4 linked regions of the Homo sapiens genome follow. The protein of the gene in region 3 interacts with the protein of the main gene of each other region in a biochemical or structural test. Each region holds a gene or a part of one and is shown on either strand. Other genes may lie near its edges.

Region 1 (4,834 bases), on a different chromosome or scaffold from region 3:
ACAAACATGGGATGGGGGAGGTTGTGTTATTATTTGTACTTTATAGATGAGGTGACTGAAGTGCATTCAAGTGGTGCTGTCTGCACAAAGAATAAGAATATTATTATTTTTTTTTCTGACTTCCCCAGTGCTGAGTCAAGATAGAGAGGAGTAGAAGGGCACTTAATTCAGAAACACTTTATGAGTGGAAATTTTAAAAATTGCCTTGAAATAGATGAATGATGGAAGCAGCTGTAAAGTCACAGCATTATTTTTTGTGGAATGAAGAGAGTGACAGTGAGAATTAAGACCTAGCATTGGTGAAGGGGAAGATAGAAGCAAGAGCCATGTGGGCCATGAGTGGAGAGAGGAAAAATAATTGAGTTACCATAAAAATAAACTGAGCTGAAATAATAACTGAAGAAGGAAAGAATGATGTTTAGTGAGTGAGAATAGCCTGCCCCATACTCTTGAAAATATTGGTGCTTGGTGTGTTATATGACTTTCTTGAAGAAAAGAGAAGGATGTGTATGTGAAGAGAAATGCTCAGTTTGCTCTTTATGATTTGTTTCCTTTTTATTTTTCTCCTATGCTTCTTTCCAATCCTTTTTCAGGTGAAGTGCTTCTTCTGCATGATTTTGGCTGAAGAATGCTCTGCATTTCCTTGATTTCTATGGAGACCTCAGAGCTGGTTTTGCTTCTGCTGACACCTCATCTAGCACCTTCTCTACCTCCCAGGGTCTTTGCCTCTATCTGTGGTTTGGCATTGTACCTGGGTACAGGAAGCCTTTGATGAACTTAAAAGGAGAGCCTGGAGAATCATCCTGATAGACTTTGAGTAGAAATGGCTGGACATACTTCAAACCACATCTTAACATGGTTCGAGCCATCACTAGAAGGCAAGTGCTAACAGTAAAGGCTTATTTGCATTTTATTTACATTTAATGGACTGAGCATTGGCCAATTTCCATGGCAGAAAAATATATTTCATTTTCTAGGCACAACTTCTGGCTGTCAGACACTTGCTGCCTTTGAATCTTGCAGCAACATCACTAACCACATCCCAGACATATTTCCAAATTTCAACATCTACCCCCAAAACATAGGTGTCTGAGAGACTCCAGCATTTTCGGACTTCTTAGTCTTGAGAGTGCCAGGCTATTTATCTCGACCAGCCAAGCTCTGGAGAGCAATGTTGAATCCCTGAGAAGAGAGAGCATGGGGCGTGCTGATTTAAAAACAGAAAATGCAAAGTTGGACTGAAAATATCCTTAGTCTTCCAAGCAATCTGCTTAAGGGTTCCAAACTTACCTTAATTTGGTGAGAAAAGAAGCTGCCCTATTTTTCTTTCTTCTTCTTCTACAACTGGAACCAGCCATTTCCGAAAACCACCACCATGGAGGTTGCAATGGTGAGTGCGGAGAGCTCAGGGTGCAACAGTCACATGCCTTATGGTTATGCTGCCCAGGCCCGGGCCCGGGAGCGGGAGAGGCTTGCTCACTCCAGGGCAGCTGCAGCAGCTGCTGTTGCAGCGGCCACAGCTGCTGTCGAAGGTAGCGGGGGTTCTGGTGGGGGCTCCCACCACCACCACCAGTCACGCGGGGCCTGTACCTCCCATGACCCTCAGAGCAGCCGGGGTAGTCGGAGGAGGAGGCGACAGCGGTCTGAGAAGAAGAAAGCCCACTACCGGCAGAGCAGCTTCCCTCATTGCTCTGACCTGATGCCCAGTGGCTCTGAGGAGAAGATCCTGAGGGAGCTGAGTGAGGAGGAGGAAGATGAGGAGGAGGAGGAAGAGGAGGAAGAGGAGGGAAGGTTTTACTATAGTGAAGATGACCATGGTGATGAGTGTTCCTACACGGATCTGCTGCCTCAGGATGAGGGCGGTGGCGGCTACAGTTCAGTCCGCTACAGTGACTGTTGTGAACGTGTGGTGATAAATGTGTCAGGCCTACGCTTTGAGACCCAAATGAAAACTCTGGCCCAGTTTCCAGAGACTTTGTTGGGAGACCCTGAAAAGAGGACTCAGTACTTTGACCCTTTGCGCAATGAGTATTTTTTTGACAGGAACCGCCCCAGCTTTGATGCCATCTTGTATTATTATCAATCAGGAGGCCGCCTGAAGAGGCCAGTCAATGTCCCCTTTGATATCTTCACTGAGGAGGTGAAGTTCTATCAGTTGGGGGAGGAGGCCCTGTTGAAGTTTCGGGAGGACGAGGGCTTTGTGAGAGAAGAGGAAGACAGGGCCCTCCCCGAGAATGAATTTAAAAAGCAGATTTGGCTCCTCTTTGAATATCCAGAGAGCTCCAGTCCTGCAAGGGGCATAGCCATTGTGTCCGTCCTGGTCATCTTAATCTCCATTGTCATCTTTTGCCTGGAAACCTTGCCTGAGTTTAGGGACGACAGGGATCTCGTCATGGCACTGAGTGCTGGCGGGCATGGTGGGTTGTTGAATGATACTTCAGCACCCCATCTGGAGAACTCAGGGCACACAATATTCAATGACCCCTTCTTCATCGTGGAAACAGTCTGTATTGTATGGTTTTCCTTTGAGTTTGTGGTTCGCTGCTTTGCTTGTCCCAGCCAAGCACTCTTCTTCAAAAACATCATGAACATCATTGACATTGTCTCCATTTTGCCTTACTTCATCACACTGGGCACTGACCTGGCCCAGCAACAGGGGGGTGGCAATGGTCAGCAGCAGCAGGCCATGTCCTTTGCCATCCTCAGAATCATTCGTCTGGTCCGAGTATTCCGGATCTTCAAACTCTCCAGGCACTCCAAAGGCCTGCAGATCCTGGGCCACACCCTCAGAGCCAGCATGCGGGAACTGGGCCTTCTGATCTTCTTCCTCTTCATTGGGGTCATCCTCTTTTCTAGTGCTGTGTATTTTGCAGAGGCGGATGAACCTACTACCCATTTCCAAAGCATCCCAGATGCATTTTGGTGGGCTGTGGTGACCATGACAACTGTGGGCTATGGGGACATGAAGCCCATCACTGTAGGGGGCAAGATTGTCGGGTCCCTGTGTGCCATTGCGGGTGTCTTAACCATTGCTTTGCCAGTGCCAGTGATTGTCTCTAACTTTAACTATTTCTACCACAGAGAGACTGAAAATGAGGAACAGACACAGCTAACGCAGAATGCAGTCAGTTGTCCATACCTCCCCTCTAATTTGCTCAAGAAATTTCGGAGCTCTACTTCTTCTTCCCTGGGGGACAAGTCAGAGTATCTAGAGATGGAAGAAGGAGTTAAGGAATCTCTGTGTGCAAAGGAGGAGAAGTGTCAGGGAAAGGGGGATGACAGTGAGACAGATAAAAACAACTGTTCTAATGCAAAGGCTGTGGAGACTGATGTGTGAATCTTTTTCCACCTGCCACTGCTCCCCCCTCAGCATCTCCAAATATATTTATGCATAGAGAGTGCAGTTATGAAAATGAAATATGCAAATGATCCAATGCATACAGTAGTACACTATTTAATGGTTATACATGGCATAATTGTTACTAAACTTGTATTACATATCAAATAAATGATACATCTTGGAGAAGAGGGAGGAATAGGAGCAAATCTATCTTTATATTTTTATTAGAATGCAAGAATTTTGCACATTAACTGGAAAAGATGTTAACAGTAAAGATGGAGAGAGAGAGTGTGTGCGTGTGTGTGTATATGTGTGTGTGTGTGAAGTAAATTGTCAATGTTAGTAATTGTGCAGTGAAGGGAAAAGTTGGCATTTTGAAGTATTTACTATGTAAGAACTAATGAATCTGAGCAGTCATTTATCAGTGCTTTAACAGCATATCGTATGTCTTTGGATTCTGTAGTTGTTTTTTAAAAATTGTAAGAAATACTGTGTAGAGAAAAAAGAAAGTAAATTATTTAATAGACTATAGGTCACAATTTTATCTTGGATTTAATTAAAATTTATTTTTAACTGGAAATTAACTTTTAAAAAGGCTGCAAGGGCCTTTAGAAATTGATTATATTTTGTTATTAATTTTGGGAAGACTTAACAGCAAATGTCTAACATTATAGAATAAGTGAAATTGGAGAATATGTAATAAGTTTTGTTTGCAGGTAACAGGACTGGATTTTTTTTTCTTTGCACTACTTTATATGCTGGAGATTGAGAGAGACTTCAAACTGTGAATGTTTACTAATGTAACAGTTCAATGACAATCATTGGAAGAATGATTTCTTTAGTCTTATTTTATTGTTTTCTTTTCATTGTGTGAGACTAATGATCATGCAGATAACATCACAGGATTCTCTCCTCTTTTAAAATCTAAATAACTGATTGACAAAGGAATTATGAAGTAAAATTTAGCAACTGAATCTTTTGAAATTGGTCTGTTAGAATGATGCTTCTGAAATCATACTATTTTATATATTCTTCTGCCTTTTAACTCCAGAATAATTTAACCAAAGTTAATGCATGCACTGAAAGAATTCTTGAAGAAGATGCCAAGCAGCTACAGTGATTATGGCTTAAAATTTTTCTATTAAATGTGAAACATAAACGCTAGATTTATTAAGTTTATTTTTTTGTGCAGTTATATAAGAACAGAATTTGGGGATTAACCTCAGATTTTAACATTATATTTGCTAAAATGGACATAAGGAAGAATTGTGTCAAACATTTGGTTTCAACATCACCATCATTATTATCTTTATTAAAGGAATTTATGACACATATAACTGCATTTAAGTCATGACAAAGCATTCTAGAATGTGAGATAACAACTAGCGATCAGCCTTGCACTATGAAATCATGAGGTATAGGTTAGAAAACTCAGAATGCATAAGAGGCCTTATTCTACAATGTTTATTTAACTTCTGTTCTTTATAAAATGAT
Region 2 (7,033 bases), on a different chromosome or scaffold from region 3:
GGTCAATGTTTCGTTTTTTAAGATGGGAAAAATAACAAACGTTTGTTAAATGGGTGGGAATGATCCAATGAAAAAAGATTTAAATTGGTATGAGGGGCAAAAAAGGGAAGAATACATGGGGCAATATATCGAGTAGGAAAGAGGAGATGGAATCTAGGGCAAAATGAGGAGAGGTTGGTCTTAATTAGGAGCAGGAACAGTTTACTTATAAAAACGGGAACTTTCATAAGCAGAGACCATGGATACAGATACAAGTAGTTGGGTAGATAATGGAATAGAAGTTTGTCGATGTTCTATTTTATTGCTTGACTTATCTGCAAGAAAAACAGGACAATCAGCAGAGAATGAACATAGAAAAGGTGTTGGAGGTGGGAGGAGGGTAAAGGCGGGAAAGAGTTGTCTAGGAGAGCAGGAGTATGAATAAACTTGCAAAGTACAGTGTGACTGTCTGTACTTTACCTGGCATGATGTTTGTCCTTAGTCTTCTCGAGACTACAACCTGGTAGAGAGAAATACTGAGAATAAGCACAAGCACGTACCTGGTGAAATCATGAAAGTAGGTGCAGCTGACTGCCCCACATCCTGCAGAGATTCTAAATGGGAATCCTCACTTATTCCTTTTTGTGTTTGTGCAATTTCCATGTCTTTAATTGGAACTGGTGTTGCCTCTGTTTCTGAGAGTGGTGGAACATCTTTGGCTGGAGTCACATTGTTGGCCAGGGTCAGAACCCCATCCTTAGCCAGGGGTGCTTCTGTTTTGAGGGCTGGGACCTGATCCTCAGTCAGGGCCACCTCCATTTCTGGAGGCAGACATACGTTCTTGATGAGAACTACTTCTGTTTCTGGAGGTGGAGTCACATCCTTGCCCAGAGCCATTTCTGTTTCTGATAGTGGAGACATGTCCTTCAACAAGCCCACTTCTTTTACTGTGGACGGAGCCACATCCTTGGCCGGGGCTATTTCTGTTTCTGGGAGTTGAGCCATGTCCTTGACTGGGGCCACCTCTGCTTCTAAAGGTAGTGCTTTATCCTTGGTCAAGATCACGTTGGTTTCCGGGGGCAGTGTCATGTCCCTGGCCAGGGCTACCTCTGTTTCTGAGGACAAAGCCACCTTCTCAGCAGAGGATATTTCTGTGGATGATATAATGTCATTAGCCTGTGCCACCTCTATTTCTGAGAGTAATACCAAATCCTTGGCTGGGACTATCTTGTTTTCTTTGGGTGGTCCCATGTCCTTGGAAGGAGCCAAGTCCATTTTTATAGGAGATGCCCTCTCTGTTTCTTTCTTGTTTTCTTTGGGTGGTCCCATGTCCTTGGAAGGGGCTAAGTCCATTTTTATAGGAGATGCCCTCTCTGTTTCTTTCAACAGTGTCACATCCTTGGCTGGGGCTACCTCTGTTTCTGTGGGCAGTACCACATTCTTGGCTGAAGATACATCTGTTTCTGTGGGCCATCTGACATCCTTAACCAGGGCCACTTCTTTTTCTGTGGGTAGTTCCATGTCCTTGACTAGGGCCATATCTGATTCCATGGATGGCTGCATGTCCTTGGCCAGTGTCACATCTAATTTGGTGGGTGATTCCATATCTTTAGCCAATGCCACCTCGGTTTTTGTAGCTAGTGCCATGTCCTTGGCGAGGGCCATCTCTGTTTCTTTAGATGGTGCCATGTCAGTAGTCTTCAGTCCCATCATTATTTCCAATGCTTGTGCTGGTGGCCTCTCTTCTGATGCCATTTCTATCTCCTTGGCTAGCTCTAAGGGAACTAAATTGGAAATTTAGGACACATCATTGTCTACTCATACCTTTGCATTAAAAATGCTTACTTTCTTCAGGCATGAGAGTATTTGGCTTTTGTGACCATAAGACTGTACACATAACTAAGAATTAATGTTAGGCCGGGCACAGTGGCTCACGCCTGTAATCCCAGAACTTTGGGAGGCCGAGGCGGATGGATCATCTGAGGTCAGGAGTTCGAGACCAGCCTGACAAACATGGTGAAACCCTGTCTCTACTAAAAATACAGAAATTAGCCATGCAGTGGCAGGCGCCTGTAATCCCAGCTACTTGGGAGGCTGAAGCAGGAGAATTGCTAGAACCCAGGAGGCGGAGTTTGCAATGAACCGAGATCACGGCATTGCACTCCAGCCTGGGGGACAGGGCAAGAGTCCGTCTCAAAAAAAAAAAAAAAAAAAGAAGAAGAAGCTAATGTCAAGTAACATATTCTGCCTACTCTTTGACAGTCTCAACACTTGGAAGAATAAGATGTAAAATACTGGGAGGACAAGTAGTGGAGGAGAAATGGCAAAGAAGAGAGAAAACATAGGCTTCAAAAATAACACGGGCACAGAATTAGTATTAGAAAGATAATCTGTGGGACAGCAGGTCAGTCATGCTTCCTATCAAGAAAAACTCCAGAGTTCTAAATCTGTACTGAATTTTTGTTTTTGTTTTTTGAGACACGGTCTCACGCTGTTGCCCAAGCTGGAGTGCAGTAGCATGATCTCGGCTCCCGGGTTCAAGCAATTCTCCTGTCTCAGCCTCCCTAGTAGCTGGGATTATAGGTACACGCCACCACGCTGAGCTTATTTATTTATTTATTTAGCTCTTTCACCCAGGCTGGAGTGCAGTGGCGCAATCTCGGCTGACAGCAACCTCTGCCTTCCGGTTTCAAGTGATTCTCCTGCCTCAGCCTCCCTAGTAGCTGGGATTACAGGCACCTGCCACCACGCCCAGCTAATTTTTTGTATTTTTAGTAGAGACGGGGTTTCACCATGTTGGCCAGGCTGGTCTCGAACTCCTGACCTCAGGTGATCTGCCCGCCTTGGCCTCCCAAAGTGTTGGGATTACAGGCGTGAGCCACCGTGCCTAGACCAATTTTTGTATTTTTTGTAGAAATGGGGTTTCACCATGTTGGCTGGGCTGGTCTGGAACTCCTGACCTCAAGTGATCTGCCTGCCTCAGCTTCCCAAAGTGCTGGGATTATAAGTGTGAGCCACCACACCAGGCCGTAAATCTGTACTGAATTAAAAAAAAAAATTCTGATACCTAATACAATGAAAATGTGATGAAAAAAATATATATATGTTAAAAAATTTAAAAAAAGTATTTATGTGCCCGTTAACCCTAAGTGTTATAGTTCAACAATTTAATTCCTCCAGTGGTGATATCACTAATATAAGCAAAACATTTGTGATTGTTCTGAAATTTTTATACCTGCTGTAAGCTGCTAAAAAATACACCTGATGATTTATATTGATTACCAATACTGCAACCATTAACTGATAAAGGGAGTCTCTAATAGTTTACCTGCCGTTGGCTGAGGAGGTTCTGCAACAGCCTCTGGGGAAACAAAGGACTCTGAGTGTGGAGAGTTTAAGGCTTCCACAGACCACCCCTGAGGTACAACAGCTGTGTTGCAGGGAGACATACCTAATATTGAAACACAAACAAATACATTTTGAAACTTAGTAAACATTGGAAACAAAAGGTATTTGATATATTTTTGTTTTGTTTTGTTTTGTTTGTTTTTTTTTTGAGACAGAGTTTCGCTCTGTTGCCCACGCAGACAGAGTGAAGTGGCGTGATCTCGGCTCACTGCAAGCTCCGCTTCCCGGGTTCACGCCATTCTCCTGCCTCAGTCTCCCGAGTAGCTGGGACTACAGGCGCCTGCCACAGCTCCCGGCTAATTTTTTGTATTTTTAGTAGAGGCGGGGTTTCACCATGTTAGCCCGGATAGTCTCGATCTCCTGACCTCTTGATCCAACCGCCTCGGCCTCCCAAAGTGCTGGGATTACAGGCGTGAACCACCGCGCCCGGCCTAAGAGGTATTTGATATTTAAAATCAGCTGCATATATTGCCAGGAAGACACAGACTAATAAAAAACAATGCAAAAAAAGTTTTTTTTCTTTTTTTGAGACAGAGTCTCGCACTGTCGCCTGGGCTGGAGTGCAATGGCACGATCTCGGCTCGCTGCAATCTCTGCCTCCCAGGTTCACGCCATTCTCCTGCCTCAGCCTCTCAAGTAGCTGGGACTACAAGCACACACCACCACACCTGGCTAATTTTTTTGTATTTTTAATAGAGATGGGGTGTCACTATGTTGGCCAGATTGGTCTCGAACTCCTGACCTCATGATCCACCCGCCTTGGCCTCCCAACGTGCTGGGATTACAGGTGTGAGACACCGCGCCCGGCCGACAACGCAAACAAGTTTTAAAGGAAACACTGCTGACATTCTTCAGGTTTTAGCTAGTTGTTAGTAGGTGGTATAGTATATCCCAGTAGTGCCATTAATCAACATTCACTGGCTACTTTCTATATAATATATAAAGGGTAATATAAAGATTCAAAATATTAATGATTGAACTCTAGTTCCAACACCACAACCAACATAATATACTATAGTAAAAAACTGCGAGTCTTAATTTCTTCATCTGCAAAATGAGATTAACACCTCCCTTTCCAACATTAGAAGACAATTTTATTAAAATACTTTGTAGCAGTTTTGTTGTTGTTGTTGTTGTTGTTGTTTGCCCAGCTAATTTTCTTATTTTTATTATATTTATTTATTAATTTTTGAGATGGATTCTTGCTCGTTGCCCAGGCTGGAGTGCAATGGCACAATCTCAGCTCACTGCAACCTCCACCTCCCAGGTTCAAGTGATTCTTCTGACTCAGCCTCCTGAGTAGCTGGGATTATAGGTGTCTGCCACCACTCCCAGCTAATTTTTGTATTTTTAGTCGAGACAGTGTTTCACCATGTTGGCCAGGCTGGTCTCGAACTCCTGACCTCAGGTGATCTGCCCACCTCCGTCTCCCAAAGTGCTGGGATTACAGGCATGAGCCACCACACTCGGCCTAATTTTTCTATTTTTAGTAGAGATGGGGTTTCACCATGTTGGCCAGGCTGGTCTCAAACTCCTGACCTCAGGTGATCTGCCCGCCTCTGCCTCCCAAAGTGCTGGGATTACAGGCATGAGCCATTAGGCCCAGCCTAATTTTTGTATTTTTAGTAGAGACGGGATTTCACCATTTTGGCCAGGCTGGTCTTGAACTCCTGGCCTCAAGTGATCCATCCGCCTTGGCCTCCCAAAGTGCTGGGATTACGGGCGTGTGCCACTGCACCCAGATGGTTTTTTTTTTTTTTTTTTTTTTTTAAGACAGGGTCTCAACTCTGTTGTCCAGGCTGGAGTACAGTGGCATGATCATGGCTCAATGCAGCCTCGACCTTCTGGGCTCAAGCAATCCTTCCACCTCAGCCTCTTGAGTAGCTGAGACTACAGGCATGTGCCACCACGCCTGGATGAATTTTAAAATTTTTTGTAGGACAGGATCTCCCTATGTTGCCCAGATTGGTTTCAAATTGCTGGGCTCAAGCAATCCTGTCACCTCAGCTTCCCAAAGTGCTAGGGTTACAGGCATGAGCCACTGTGTCTGCCTGTAAATGAAGAAGTAGAAAAATGTGGCTGGGTGCAAAGGCTCACGCCTGTAATCTCAGCACTTTGGGAGGCTGAAGCGGGTGGATCACTTGAGCCCAGGAGTTCAAGACCAGCCTGGGCAACGTGACAAAACCCCATCTCTACAAAAAATTAGCCAGGCATAGTGGTACACACCTGTAATCCCAGCTGCTCAGGAGATTGAGGTGGGAGGATCACCTGACCAGGAGGCCAAGGCTGCAGTGGGCCGTGATCGCATCACTGCACTCCAACCTGGGTGACAGAGTGAGACCCTGTCTCAAAAAAAAGGGGAGATGACAGCCCAACTGTGAATCTGTGAATTGTCTCCTTTGATTAATCCAAAGAGAGCCTTGTCACACCCACAGCCCCTAAATCTGACTTTTCTTAGTGGTTAGCTTCAAAGGTGATGTGTGAAAGGCCATGTTGATTGTTTGGCATTAAACAACTAAAGGACACCAGAATATGCCACCCCAAAATACGCTACTTTGGCATAAGGACTTTTTTAAGCTGAAGGCTATTATTAGCCTGGAGATGGCACCATAGGAATCTACACAGCAACCTTTACTAACTAGCTTTTACCTACCATTTACCTGTCTCCCACAATTTGCGGCCCCTAGAGACTCAAAAGTCTTTTCCTTCATCTTCTCACCTCTCAAAAAAAAAATTTGTCATTCTTTATTGAAGAAGCTATATAAGGTGGAATTCTAAAGCCACCTCTTGCGGAGTTACTCATTCCCTAGGTACCTCTCATGTACATATTAAATTCACATTTTAAACTTTGGTCTCTTTTTTCTTGTTAATCTTTTGTCACAGAGCCCTAGTCAGTGAACCAAAGATGAGTAAAGAAAAAATTTTTTTCCTTCCCTACAGAATAAATCCATTTGAAGAAGCCATACCGTAACTGTCTTTCAAGGGATCATTTTGTCCTGCAAATATTGAAGTATCAGCTGTCGCACTGGAGGGAAAGACCAAATCTGCCAGGTCATCATCATGGTACATCTTAAAGGGATCTGGAATATAGAAGAAATCCAAAACTCATTCCTGGTGAATGCAACTAGAAAGATTAATATTTCTTTCTTTCTTTCTTTTTTTTTTTTGAGGTGGAGTCTTGCTCTGTTGCCAAGGCTGGAGTGCAGTGGTGCCATCTTGGTTCACTGCAACCTCTACCTCCCAGGTTCAAGCAATTCTCCTGCCTCAGCCTCTTAAGTAGCTGGGATTACAGATGCCCGCCACCATGCCTGGCTAATTTTTGTATTTTTTTGTAGAGACAAGGTTTCTCCACGTTGGCCAGGCTAGTCTCAAACTCCTGATCTCAAGTGATCTGCCCACCTCGGCCTCCCAAAGTATTAGGATTACAGGCGTGAGCCACCATGCCTGGCCAATATTTCTTATTATCCTATGATGAATATAGATGAGTTGTCAATAGTAAGTAAACCGAAATCATATGTGACTGCACATGGTAGAGAATCAATATTCACTAATTCATTTGTTATGAGTTAATAATAAATAATCCCTTCTCTAAGATTTGGTTATGTACATCAGATAGCCAACAAATGCATAAAACAAAAAGGGCAAC
Region 3 (7,033 bases):
CTGCCGAGCAGATCTCCAGATACCTGCAGGCACAAATGGGTGGAGACAAGGACCTGACCATTAGGCTGCAGCTGCCCAACCCTGGCCCAAGAAACCCCACCCACCACCAAACCAGGAGAAACCAGGGGGATGTCCGTGAGAGAATCAGGAGCAACCCTCACTGCTGGGCTCCAGCCACAGTTGCTGGGGCTTCATGGGGCATAGGAACAAGCGAGTGTGACATATACACACGTGTTCATATATTTTGTGGGGTTTTTGTTGTTGTTTTTGAAACAGAGCCTCGCTCTGTCACCCAGGCTGCACTGCAATGGCCCAACCTCTGCCTCCCAGGTTCAAGTGATTCTCCTGCCTCAGCCTCCCAAGTAGCTGGGATTACAGGCACACGCCACCACACCCATATAATTTTTGTATTTTTAATAGAGATGGGGTTTCACCATGTTGGCCAGGATGGTCTCGATCTCCTGACCCCGTGATCCGCCTGCCTCAGCCTCCCAAAGTGCTGGGATTACAGGCATGAGCCACCATGCCTGGCCTTATTTTTTTATTTTTAGTAGAGATGGGGTTTCACCAAGTTGGCCAGGCTGGTCTCGAACTCCTGACCTCAAATGATCACCCCGCCTTCGCCCTCCAAAGTGCTGGGATTACAGGCATGAGCCACCGTGCCCAGCCTACACGTATGCAGATACACACAAATATACACACACACTGAAACATGCATGATGGTGTAATAGGGCCTAAATTATTGCTGTGTGGCTATTCCTAATCTTGCCCCTTTCTCCTGGTTTCTAAGGAACATCCTCTTCTGGGCCAGCTCCCAGGTTCTCCTTGTTGCACAGAACCAAACTAATTCACTAATAAGAGCAGGGGAAAAAAAAAAAAAAAACTAAGCTGGACATGGTGGCTCACGCCTGTAATCCCAGAACTTCGGGAGACTGAGCCAGGACGATGGCTTGAGCCCAGGAGTTCGAGACCAGCCTGGACAACAAAGTGAGACACTCATCTCTAAAAAAGAAAAAAAAATTTTTTTTTTAATTAGCCAGGCATGGTGACACGTGCCTATAGTCCCAGCTACTTAGAGGCTGAGGCAGGAGAACCACTTGAGCCCAGGAGTTTGAGGCTGCAGTAAGCTATAAGGGTGCCAGTGCACTCCAGCCTAGATGACAGCACAAGACCTCATCTTAAAAAAACAGAAAAACAGACAGGGTGTGATGGCTCACGCCTGTAATCCCAGCACTTTGGGAAGCCAAAGCGGGTGGATCACCTGAGGTAGGGAGTTCAAGACCAGCCTGATCAACATGGAGAAACCCCATCTCTACTAAAAATACAAAATTAGCTGGGTGTGGTGGCACATGCCTGTAATCCCAGCTACTAGGGAGGCTGAGGCAGGAGAATCGCTTGAACCCAGAAAGTGGAGGTTGTAGTGAGCTGAGATCGTGCCATTGCACTCCAGCCTGGGCAACAAAAGCGAAACTCCGTCTCAAAAACCAAAAAAAAAAAAAAAAAAAAAAAAAAACAGAAAAACAAAACAACAACAAAACTAAAGAGGCTTGAGGCCAGGCATGGTGGCTCACACCTGTAATCCCAGCACTTTGGGAAGCTGAGCCGGGCAGATCACTTGAGGCCAGGAGTTCAAAACCAACCTAGCCAACAGGGCAAAACCCCATCTCCTCTAAAAACACAAAAAATTAGCCAGACGTCATGGCGGGCACCTGTGGTCCCAGCTACTTGGGAGGCTGAGGCACCAGAATCACTTGAACCTGGGAAGCAGAGGTTGCAGTGAGCTGAGATCACACCACTGCACTCCAGCCTGGGTGACAGAGCGAGATCCCCCATCTCAAAAAGAAATAATAAATTATTGTTTTCTAAACCACTAAATTTTAGGGTTGGTTTGTGATACAGCAACAGATAGCCAAAATACTAGCAGAAAAGACTCTTTGGCTTTTGTCTTATTTCTGCCTGGAATATGAACACAATTCTTGGGATGCAGCCACCATCCTGCCTCCACGAAGAAGAAAACCGCCCATAATTAAAATGGTAGAGCAGGAAGCTAGAAGCCTAGTTCCTTGATGGCATCCTTGAGCATCTACAGCAGCCTGAATAGCTGACCCCTGGACTTCTTTTTAAACATGTGGGAAAATTAACCCCTTTTATTTAAGTCATTGCTTGTTGGAGTTTCTGTACTTGCAGCCCAGTGCAATCCTAACACTGAGTAAAAGTTTGAAGCAGTTTTCATTATATTTTGGTTGCCAGGCTGTATCCCTATGACTGGGATACTGCACTGACAGTGGGCCATATGGAACCCCAGTTATATTGAGGTTACCTATGTAGGTACTCAGGCATGTACATGTTAAAACACACATGCACACACATATGTGCATACACATACAAATAACATATAAACAAACACACATGTACAAATCTATACTCATACATGCAAATGCTCTCATATATACATACAAGCACTTGCATTTACATGTCATCTACACGTGCGCACACTTAGAAACATATACACACGTTTCAGGTAATGTCTGGGATCAGGCTGGGAATCTAAGGTTCTATGAGTCTCTAGAAGGACTAATACTACTTCACCTTCACACTCACAGAAGGCCCTTCCGGGCCGGGCATGGTGGCTCACCCCTGTAATCCCAGCACTTTGGGAGCCCAAGGTGGGTGGATCTTGAGGTCAGGAGTTTGAGATCAGCCTGGCCAATGTGGTGAAACCCTGTCTCTAGTAAAAATACAGCCGGGCGCGGTGGCTCATGCCTGTAATCCTAGCACTTTGGGAGGCCGAGGCAGGCAGAATGCCTGAGCTCAAGAGTTCAAGACCAGCCTGGGCAACATGGTGAACCCCCGTCTCTGCTAAAATACAAAAAAAAAAAAAATTAGTCAGGCATGGCGGCGTGCACCTGTAGTCCCAGCTACTCAGGAGGCTGAGGCAGGAGAATTGCCTGAACCTAGGAGGCGGAGGTTGCAGTGAGCTGAGATTGTACCACTGCACTCCATCCAGCCTGGCAACAGAGAAGACTCTGTCCCAAAAAAAAAAAAAATACAAAAATTAGTCTATTAAAAATACAGGCGATGGCTCATGCCTGTAATCCTAGCACTTCAGGAGGCCAAGGTGGGCGGATCACCTGAGGTCAGGAGTTCCAAACCAGCCTGACCAACATGGTGAAACCCCATCTCTAATAAAAATACAAAATTAGCTGGGCATGTTGGCAGGTGCCTGTAATCCCAGCTACTCAGAAGTCTGAGGCAGGAGAATCGCTTGAACCCGGGAGAAGGGGACCGCAGTGAGCCAAGATTACACCACTGCACTCCAGCCTGGGCAACAGAGCGATACTCCGTCTCAAAAACAAAAACAAAGGCTCTTTTTTAGAGCATCGGCAAGTGACCTGTGAATCACCAGTTTTTGCCTCATGGGGGCAGGCAAGAGGTGTGGCATCGAGTGAGACCAAGAGATTTGGATGCTGGACGTTAACCAGCCCTCCCAGCCAATGTTGGGCATTTGCTTGGCATTGAACCTAGGCTGTCACTAGGACCCACAGCCCAAGCTTGTAATGCATATAGCAGTTAAGCATCACCTCCAACAATGCATATCCCACTTGACCAAATATGCTCCATTTAGCCACCACCATCACTCAGGTATCTTGCACCTTCCAAAGCAGAAAGGACTACCAGGATTGAGGCAAGTGCCACCCTTTCTGGTTGTGTGATCTCAAGTAGGTTACTTCCCCTCTCTGTCCTCATCTATAAAATGGAGGTGAGCCGGGAACGATGGCTCATGCCTGTAATCCCAGCACTTTGGGAGGCCGAGGCAGGCAGATCACCTGAGGTCAGCAGTGCGAAACCAGCGTGGCCAACATGGTGGAACCCCATCTCTACAAAAAATACAAAAGTTAGGCAGGGCACAGTTGCTTACACCTATAATCCCAGCACTTTGGGAGGCTGAGGCGGGGGAATCACCTGAGGTCAGGAGTTCGTGACCAGCCTGACCAACATGGAGAATCCCGTCTCTACTAAAAATACAAATAATTAGCCAGGCATGGTGGCAGGCGCCCGTAATCCCAGCTACTTGGGAGGCTGAGGGAGGAGAATTGCTTGAACCTGGAAGGCAGAGGTTTCAGTGAGCCAAGATCATGCCATTGCACTCCAACCTGGGCAACAGAGTGAGACTCTGTCAAAAAAAAAAAAAAAAAAAAAAAAGTTAGCCAGGTGTGGTGGTGGGCGCCTGTAGTCCCAGCTACTTAGGAGGCTAAGGCAGGAGAATCACTTGAACCCAGGAGGCAGAAATTGCAGTGAGCCAAGATCTTTGCACCACTGCACTCCAGCCTGGGCGACAGAGCAAAACTCTGGCTCAAAAATAATAATAAAATAAAATAAAATGGAGGTGAAATAATAGGACTTTGCCCATTGGGCCTCTGTGAGAGCTAAATAATATTGCACAGGGAAAGCACTCAACACAGTGCTGGGTACACAGTAAACACTCAGTAAATGTTAGGTGGTTTCAGTATTATCAATGAACTGTTAAAGGCTGCTCAGATGTGAAGGATGTAACCTTCCATGGCCCTGATAAAAAGGTTACCAGACATCTCAGAGCTCCAGCAGAGTGGGAAGAGACGAGAGGATCAGTGAGTCCAACAACCTCATCTCACAATGGAGAATCTAAAGGTCAGTGAGGAAAAGGGCCTAGTTCAAAGAGGACCAGGACTGGAACGCAGGGTTCTTCCTCAGACCAAGTTCATCCCCAGATGTGAGCTGCCCAGAGGAAGAAGTGAGAAGCAAAGCACACCATCATCTCCATGGCTTCACTCAGGCTTCCAGTCAATCTATTTTTTAAGCACCTACTATGTCCTGGCATTGTGCTGGTCATTCGTACAACACAGAGGTGTCTTTCCATTGGTCCCACCACCTGACGCCAGGGCATCTGTCCATCTGAGTTGCTCCCAACCCCAGCCTTACCTGGGCTCCGGGTCATTGGGGGTGCACCTCTTCGAGACATATGCCATCTTCAAGGACATGTGTTTGGCCTCGCTGAAGTTCCGGGGTGTGGGGCCAGGGGAGGAAGGCTGCCGCTGAAGGGGTGAGGCAGGAGGTGAGTCCCAGCCGACCGAGGTCCCACCAGTAGAGTTCTTGAAATACGGTGAGACGTCCTTCATATACTTGACTGATTGGGAGAGACATCAGCAGTCACCACTGTGACATGGGCTCCCAGCACATATCACAATTGTCACTAATTTATTAAGAGTTTAATTTACGTGTCACTATTAGACCCTTAGTAAGCAAGAGTCCAGTAGTGATATTAACAAATTCTTCTAAGTTAAAGTCTCTGACAGGGCAGTGGAGCAGAAAATACTGTATCCCTTCTCTCTATCCCTATATAGAGATAGGGCCCGCCTATATCCCTTCTCTCATTTTCCCCATGGTTAATAGACATACAGCCACCTGGAAGAAAGACTCTATTTCCCAGCCTCCTTTGCAGTGAGGTGTGGCCATGTGACTTTTTTTTTTTTTTTTTTGAGACAGTTTCTCTCTGTCACCCAGACTAGAGTGCCATGGTGTGATCACAGCTCGCTACAGCCTCAATCTCCCAGATCAATCAATCCTCCCACCTCAGCTCCCCAAGTAGCTGGGTCTACAGGTACGCACTACCACACCCAGCTATTAATTTTTTGTAGAGATGGGGTCACGCCATGTTGCTGGTCTTGAACTCCTAGACAGTGTATACAAGAAGGTGGTTACAAGACTTTCCCAGGCTGGGCATGTTGGCTCATGCCTGTAATCCTAGCACTTTGGGAGGCCAAGGCGGGCAGATCATTTGAGGTCAAAAGTTTGAAACCAGCCTGACCAACATGGTGAAACCCCGTCTCTACTGAAAATACAAAAGCTAGCCGGGCGTGGTGGCTCGCACCTGTAATCCCAGCTACTGGGGAGGCTGAGGCAGGAGAATCACTTGAACCCGGGAGGAGGAGGTTGCAGTGAGCCAAGATTGTGCCACTGTACTCCAGCCTGGGTGACATAACAAGACTCTGTCTCAAAAAAAAAAAAAAAAAAAAAAAAAAAAAAGACTCCCAGGCTGGGCATGGTGGCTCATGCCTGTAATTCCAGCACTTTGGGAGGCCAAGGCAGTGTGGATCACTTGATGTCAGGAGTTCAAGACCACCCTGGCCAACAAGGTGAAACCCTGTCTCTACTAATAATACAAAGGTTAGCTGGGCAGGGTGGTGCATGCCTGTAATCCCAGCTACTCGAGAGGCTGAGGCATGAGAATCACTTGAACATGGGAAGCAAAGGTTGCAATGAGCCAAGATTGCGCACTCCAGCCTGGACGATGAAGTGCGACTGCCTCAAAAAAAAAAAAATGATGACTTTCCCAAGACCTTGTCTCTCTTCTCCCAACAAGGATATACCCTCTGTGGGTGCCTGATGCCTGCTAGCCCGTGGGCAGCCTCTCTTCCTCTGCTCTCAACCACACCTGCTCCCAGGGCCATCTGGCTTGCTAGCTATCTGACGTCTGCAGTCAAAGCCCAGCCAACGTGCCCTGTGAGTGGACAGCCCAGGAAGGAGTTAGGAAGTAATTCTTGGCCCACCTCCCTGGAAGAACCAGATAAGAAGCTATTTCTGTCGCAGGAGATGCCTCTGAGGCTCAGATAGGATTCAAAGCAAATGGAGGCAAATAAGAGGGAGTTACAAACCCTATTGGGGTTGGGATAGAAGCAATGTTGAAAGAAACCAGGGTCAGGTTTTTTTGGGAGAAGCAAGCCTGGGTCTGACTTTTGGGGACTAGGACTCAAATGACTTATCATCACTGTAGCAACGACTTACCCCAGGACTGACTATTGGATTATGTCTCAAAGGGCAGCAGAAGTGGGACATATCACAGCCTACTTGACAGCCAAAAACCATCTCCCCTCTTTTTCCTTTGCTAAGAGAACCCTGAGCCCTAGAGGCTCAGCTTCTCCCCAGCTTAGAGGGAGAATCTTGATTGGTCAAATCAAATCATGATCATTCCATCCTTTTTGCTTGTGATTGGTTT
Region 4 (7,033 bases), on a different chromosome or scaffold from region 3:
CCCCCTTCAGCACTGCCACAAATGTCCAGCCCTCCGACAGCTCGGCGAGGTAGGTTAGGAGCAGCCAGCCCAGAGCCGGCAGGTGAGACTGAGGTGGCCTGGGAGGCATGCGCCCGGTGGAGGGGCTCCATGGGAGAGCTGGAATGGGGCAGCCAAGCCCCTGCCTGCTCAGGCTTCGCCAGTTGACCCTGTTACCTCAGGGTGACAGTTCTCTATGTTAAAAGATTTGCATATGCTAAATAGGATTGTCAGCAGCTGAAGAGGTCCTGGGGGTGATTGGACTAGTAAAATATTTTTCCCTGAAAAAGCCTTTTCACAAGACCTATGGGACCACCTGGATCTTGCCCCAAAGAGGTCCTCTGTGTGGGTGCCATCAGGATCCCGGGCTGAGCCAGAGAGGCTGGGCCTGACCACAGTGCCCCCTCTCTCAAAGGTGCCATGGTTCATTCCCCTCTAAGGGCACGAGAACTGGGCCTGACCATCCCTTTCCCTGCACAGGGCGCAGGGCCAAGCTCCGCTCCCCACTCCCATGTCTCTGTGTCTGGAGAGGAGCTGGAGACCACACAGAAAACTCCTCCGCGTATGGTCCAGAGAGCCCTGGGAGATCGCCAGTTTCCTCTCTTCAGGCAGGCTGAGGGGCCGCCATGGCTCAGGGCTGGTGAACTTCTTAGCCCCAAACCCCCATGGCTCAGCCCTCTCTTCCGATGGCTGGCTGGGCAGGGCCTGCCAGGTTCCAGGAGCAAGGACAAGCTGCATGCCAGGCCGTGAATGGGGCTTGCACCCTTGTGTCCTTTGGTTTTGTTAATACTCTTACAGGAGGGGAAGAAAAGGCAACTATCAGTGCCTAGGGCCAGCCCTGGGACCCAGGCCACTCTCCTCTGGAAGCCTTTTATTTTTGTAGGACTGACAATATGACCTGCGTGAAAACACAGGGGGAAAATGGGACCTTGGAGACAATAGGGGGCCAGAGTGAGCCCCGTGGACAAGAACCCCATCCTTGGGGGGCCGGCAGGGAAAGGCCTGTCTCCCTTAGGCTGGGAGCCTGGGTCCCACGGCCTGTGTCTGGCCTCCGTGTGTGAGGACTGTGTGTGTGTGCTTGTGTGAGTGGGGGTTCAGCCCTCCCAGCATCTCAGGTCAAGTGGGAGGGGGACCCCATTCGACCCCTGGGCAGTGAAGACCTGTGGGAGCCACACTGGATTCCACTTCTGCTTTGAGAACAGACTTCCGGCTGCTCCATAGACACTCTTGTTCAGGGTTAAGAAGAGACAGCGTGAATTGCTGCCCATGTCCATGGAAAAATCCTTAGTTCTTTGCTCAAGTAAAAAAATATCAAATATAATAAATTTATGAAAGCCCATTCACAACATATACAGTCTCAGTTTTATATTTCGCCTCAGCAGCTGGGATGAAGTTGCTTTCCAGAGCCGCAGGGCATTGCCTGACCAGACCAGGTCACAGGTCTATCTGAGGCCTCCAAGCACAGGCCAACTGCTCCGGCTGTCCACGCGGCGCCACAGAACTCTGCCTGGTTGATCCGCGGGGCTGAGGCCCATTTCTTACTCCCAAAGCCAGGAAGGCCCCAGGCTGGTTTGTGACTGACTGCATTTAGGTTTGCCATGGTGAAAAAGGCTGCTTTTCAGTGTGTCCTGGCCAGCCAGGCCGAGGCTCACACGATGGACTCACGGTCCCTGTCCGGAGAAGGGGGGAAGTCGGCGAGATCTTCACTGTGGCTGTAGTCAGACCCCCGCACCTGGAGGTTATCGCTGGTGGCTCTAGTGACACTGTCATAGGAGGGTGGGAAGGAAGTGGAGGAGATGGAGGAGCTGGAGGGTGGGCCAAGGGGTCGGGAGAAGTTCTCACTCATCACGTAGGCGATGAGGCCCTCTCGCTCAGGGGCATCCTCTTCGGAGAGGCCGCTGCCCGCCTGCTGACGGAAGAGGAAGGAGGCATGCTTCAAAGAGCGTTGCAGCAGGTGCCTGCGGAAGGCTCTCTGGATAACCATGGCCGACACCTCTTCGTGCTTGCGCCGGAGTGTGGTGGTGATGGGCTCGTAGGAGATCTTGGATGGGTTGGCTGCCATGAACTTCTCCTCCATCTGGATCTTCAGGGCGTCCATCTCCCCAGACTCCCCCAGGACCCTTTTGGTGAAGGCAAAGAGAATGTCCATGCAATGGATGCGGTCCCCACTCACCATGGGCAGGTCCATGTTGATGAGGCTTATCTGGTTGGGCTTGGCGATACGGAGTGGCTCAGACAGGGCATCGGCAAAGTCAGACAGGACCGAATACTCAATAAACTGAGTGGCCTCTGGGTCAAATTTCTCCCAGATCTCATAGAACATATCGAAGTCGTCCTCACTCAGGGGCTCGGTGCTCTCCTCCGTGGCCACGCTGAAGTTCTCCAGGATGATGGCAATGTACATGTTGACCACGATGAGGAAGGAGATGATGATGTAGGTGGTGAAGAAGAGGATGCCCACGGCTGGGCTCCCGCAGTCCCCCCGAGAGCCATTGCTGTTGGGCAGAGTGGGGTCGCAGTAGGGCGGCCCAGTGTTGAGGATGGGGCTGAGGAGGCCATCCCAGCCGGCCGACGTGGTGATCTGGAAGAGGCACAGCATGCTGTTGGCGAAGGTCTGGAAGTTGAACATGTCGTCGATGCCAGCCTCCCACTTGACATAAGCGAAGTTGGCCATGCCAAAGATGGAGTAGATGAACATGACGAGGAAGAGCAGCAGCCCGATGTTGAAGAGGGCAGGCAGGGACATCATGAGGGCAAAGAGCAGCGTGCGGATCCCCTTGGCCCCTCGGATCAGTCTGAGGATGCGGCCTATTCGGGCCAGGCGGATGACTCGGAAGAGCGTCGGGGAGAAGAAGTACTTCTGGATGATGTCCGAGAGCACAGTGCCTGTGGGAAACAACAGAGACTGTGGCTACTGGTGGCACCTCTGTCTTCCAGCCAGCATCACTGTGCAGGGGTTGGCGGTGGGGGGGGGGTCTCTATATGGCAAGGAGCCAAGGAGAGGCGGCCCTTCCAGGATTGCGTCCACTGGGCATGCTAGGACTCTGCCTGCTCCTGTCTGTTTGAGTCTCCATGTCTGCATCTGTGACCCAGAAAAATGGGTCCTTTGCAGGGTTCCTTCTCAGCCCCCTCATTCCTTAATCTTCAGTGTGTACCTACACAATAGAGCTGTCCTAGGCCCATCTTCTACATCTTGGGTTCTCAGGCCAGAGGGGATCTGCTTAGTATCTTGCCCACCCAGCTTGGGCCAGAACTCAGGTCTTTTAGCTCCTTGCTATTCAAAGTGTGGTTTGAGGACCAGCAGCCTTGGGATCTCCTAGGTGCTTATCAGAAATGCAGAATCTCAGCTCCACCCCAGCCCATTGCATCTTAAGAAGCCCAGATGATTTATGTGCCCATCGAAGGGCATGAAACACTGGCCCAGAAATCAGTGCTCCCTGATGCCACGCCATGGCCAGTGTCTTCTCTCAGCTTCTCTGTGATGGTTCTTATCGCTCTCCTAACTCTGCCTCCTTTGAGGGCGTCACTGCCCCTGGGTCTCCTGTGACTACCTGGGTTTGGAGTTTTAAGGGGCATGGATATAAATCATGGAATAAAGAGTGAAATAAACTTGTCTTATATGGCCCAAGTGCCCTTTCCAGACTCCTTATATAATAATGTCACTGACTGACATGGGTCCAGTGTTTACGATCACTGGGGCAATGGGCCGAGCACTTTATAGCCATCATTTCATTTAGTCCTTCCCATTGTCCTAGGAAGTGAGCAGATGCCATCATCCTTATCTTCCAGAAGAGGAAACAGAGGTGAGGTAACTTACCCAAGTTGCCACCTAGTGAGTGAGAAGCTGGGATTTGACTCAGACGTTCGGGCTCCAAGTTGATCTCTTAACCACTCCTCCTCTCTGGTACCGCCCAAACAGCGGGCCAGGAGAGATCCCAAAGTACATGCTGAACCTTCCAAAGCCTCTGAGACTGTCCCTCAATGGTTCCATTCCTGCTGCTGACATCCTGCATTCTCTAAAACTCCTCTCCAGTCCCATAAGGCACGCTCTCACCCTCATCCTGCTTGAGACCCCCCAGAGATTCCTGACCCTACTTTGTGCTTCCATCTTCCCGTCACTATAGCCACAGCAGTGCCTGCCTTAGCCCCTGCATTATCCTTTACATTTACCAGAGGCAGAGGTTGTATATGGCAGAAAGATGAAAGTCACAGTCACCGCAAGGCAGAGCCCCTTGGGGGTAGAGTTAAAGAGTTTGGGCTCCGAGCACAAGTGACAAAAGAAAAAATATAAGTAAACTGGACTTCATTAACATGTAAAACTTTTGTGCTTTAATGGACACCACTAGGAAATGAAAAAACTCACAGACTAGGAGAAAATATTTTTAAATCATATATCTGATAAGAGACTATGATCCAGAATATGTAAAGAACTCTTACAACTCAACAAGAAAAAGAGAAATAACCCAATTAAAAATGAGCTAAGGATCTGAATAGAGATTTCTCCAAGGAAGATATATAAATGACCAACATGCACATGGAAAGATGTCCTGCATCGTTAGTCATCAGTCATTTGCTTTTGCAAACCAAAACCTCAGTGAGATATCACTTCATACTCACTAGGAGGGCTCCTATAAAAAGAATGCAGGCAATAACAAGTGTTGGTGAGGGCAAAATAATTGGAATCCTCATACATTGACAGCGAGAATGTAAAAAGGTGCAGCCATATTGAAAAACAGTTTGGTGGTCCCTCAAAACTTTAGATAAGTGGTTTTCAGGGGTGAGGGAGAGGGGAAATGAATGGGGATTGACTATTAAATGGGTAGAGTTTCCTTTGGGGAAAGGAATATATTCTAAAATTAGATAGTGGTGATGGTTGCAAAGCTCTGTGCATATATTAAAAAACACTGAATTGTATACTTTAAAGTGACTTTAAAGTTAACCGTGAATTTTATGGTATGTGAATTATGTCTCAGTAAAGCTGTTATATAAAAAAAAGATCTGGGCTCCGAGGTCAAACAGACATGGGTCAGGATTGGGTCTCTGCTTCTCCCTAGCTGCACAATCTCCCTCCTTTGGTGCTGAATTGACTGGGTGAATTGCATGAGGCAGGTGATGTCTGAAGGAGTCTGGCATACACCTTGGCGGTTAGCTCCAGAATTTTCCATCTTCAGGGATAATTTCTACTCTGGAGGGCCACCTATCCCCCATCCCTGGGGACCCATCTCATCCTGAGCTTCCTTCTCCTTCAACCTAAGTGCAGGCAGAATTAGCCTCCACAGCACCCACTCCCATTCCCAGACTCATCCTTGAAGCTCTCTAAGCAGTTAGAGAACTGTGTTCCCAGTTCCTCTGGAGGGTGGGGCCAGGAGCAAGTGCTGGGTCCTCTGCCAGATTGGTCTCCTTGGCCCAAGTGGGGCCTTCCAGATAAGTTCTCTCTGGAGAGGTGTGTGTGCGTGTATGTGTGAGGGGAGAAGGGGGGTGAGAAATGCACTGAAAAAAATTATGAAAGAAGCTAGGGTTGTACATGGCATTCAGCAGAGACCCAGGGGCTGGAGGAGAGGCCTGGCTGGGGAGGGCTTCTCCGTCCAGCTGACTTGTATACCCACCCACGATGGAGAGGATGACAACCACGAAGTCGAAGATATTCCAGCTGTTGGTGAAGTAGTAGTGGCGCAGGGCAGCCAGCTTGACAATACACTCGCCTGTGAAGATGGCCACAAAGAGCAGGTTGATCTTGGCCAAGATGTTGATTTTCTCAGGACTTTGGTCATCTGTCTCCACCATCATGGTCACCATATTCAAGCAGATCAGAAACATGATGGTGACGTCAAAGGCCTGCTTGGTCACAATGTCGAATATGAAGCCCTGGTACTTGTTCTGAAAGGAGAGGCAAATGGAAAGTGCTCAGCAGGGCCCTTGGGGAGGCTGGCAAATGCCTGTTGCTGCCTCTCATCCCAGACCACCCACCCTCCCACTCTACCCTCTAGTGAGCCCAAAGCCCCTGCAACACTGCCACAGAGAGTGCAGAGGAAAAAGTCCTGGAGGCTAAAGCCACTGGCTGTCCTGCTGAAATGCTTCCTGGGCTTCAAGGCCCATCCCCAGAGCTCCATCTTCCATGAGGCCTTCCATGATGGATCTTCAGGGAGAGATTGTTCCTGCCCTGAGCATCCTTAGCACACTGTTCATTGTGCTTCCCTTTTAGTTCCCACAGTCTGAAGGCTCAAGGGCAAATTTAAACTTCAACCTTAGTAATTATGTCAGTGCTTAGATTAATATATTTTCTCCACTTTTTTATGGAATTTATTTTATTTATTCTACTAACCATATTTGTATGTGTCTTTAATTGTAAATCAGCCCAGATTATTTGGGGAAAGAAATAAGATTTTATATATATATATATATATATATATATATATATATATATATATATATATTTTTTTTTTTTTTTTTTTTCTTCTGTTCTCCCACTTGGAAAAGATTATAAATAACACACACACACACACACACACACACACACACACAATTTTTTGGATAATGGCTTGATTGGGCCAAGGGAGTCAGTCTTGGAGAGGACCCCGCTCTCCAGAGCTCTTGGCTCTCCCCACCAGGTGACTCAGGAATCCGGCTCCCTGACTGTTCTGGGGTTCCAAGGATGAGGCTGTGAGTGGGGTGGGGTGGGGCTGTGAAGGCTGCACTGCTTTTCCTGGGGAAAGCCTGCATCCTTGAGGGGAAGGAGGAGATTTGCTCAGGTACAGAGGGTTCCTGTGGGTGGGGAGTGTCCTGGGATGCTACATCCTTATCATACCTTCCTCCCTATCTCTACGAGGCTGGGACCTCTCTTCATGATCAGACATCTGATAGTGCCCCTCAGGCTGGGCTGAAAGACTGTGAAGCGGCTCTGATGGCTGGCCATGTGGCACGAAAGCTTCCCAGGGACCCCAGAAGATCCTCCCCACTCCCACAAAACCAGGAGCCTGGCTCACCAGGGGCCGTGGGATGGGCTTCTGGGGCTTCT

Evidence for each region.
Region 1: the proteins of SNTA1 (region 3) and KCNA4 interact in a test that uses a peptide from one of them, tested with the Homo sapiens proteins (2 studies listed by BioGRID and IntAct).
Region 2: the proteins of SNTA1 (region 3) and MAP4 interact in a test that uses a peptide from one of them, tested with the Homo sapiens proteins (2 studies listed by BioGRID and IntAct).
Region 4: the proteins of SNTA1 (region 3) and SCN5A interact in a test that uses a peptide from one of them, tested with the Homo sapiens proteins (2 studies listed by BioGRID and IntAct).

Annotation. Positions count from the first base shown.
Region 1 is NC_000011.10:30,009,220-30,014,053, reverse strand, and holds the end of KCNA4 (potassium voltage-gated channel subfamily A member 4), read left to right. Parts: intron 1-593; 5' UTR 594-1,375; coding exon 1,376-3,337; 3' UTR 3,338-4,324; downstream 4,325-4,834. UniProt on the Homo sapiens protein: Voltage-gated potassium channel that mediates transmembrane potassium transport in excitable membranes. Forms tetrameric potassium-selective channels through which potassium ions pass in accordance with their electrochemical gradient.
Region 2 is NC_000003.12:47,915,412-47,922,444, forward strand, and holds part of MAP4 (microtubule-associated protein 4), read right to left. Parts: intron 6,468-7,033; coding exon 6,354-6,467; intron 3,431-6,353; coding exon 3,308-3,430; intron 1,764-3,307; coding exon 540-1,763; intron 1-539. UniProt on the Homo sapiens protein: Non-neuronal microtubule-associated protein. Promotes microtubule assembly.
Region 3 is NC_000020.11:33,412,760-33,419,792, forward strand, and holds part of SNTA1 (alpha-1-syntrophin), read right to left. Parts: intron 5,165-7,033; coding exon 4,960-5,164; intron 1,876-4,959; exon of another isoform or gene 24-1,875; coding exon 1-23. UniProt on the Homo sapiens protein: Adapter protein that binds to and probably organizes the subcellular localization of a variety of membrane proteins. May link various receptors to the actin cytoskeleton and the extracellular matrix via the dystrophin glycoprotein complex.
Region 4 is NC_000003.12:38,548,655-38,555,687, forward strand, and holds part of SCN5A (sodium channel protein type 5 subunit alpha), read right to left. Parts: coding exon 7,002-7,033; intron 5,896-7,001; coding exon 5,625-5,895; intron 2,905-5,624; coding exon 1,667-2,904; 3' UTR 1-1,666. UniProt on the Homo sapiens protein: Pore-forming subunit of Nav1.5, a voltage-gated sodium (Nav) channel that directly mediates the depolarizing phase of action potentials in excitable membranes.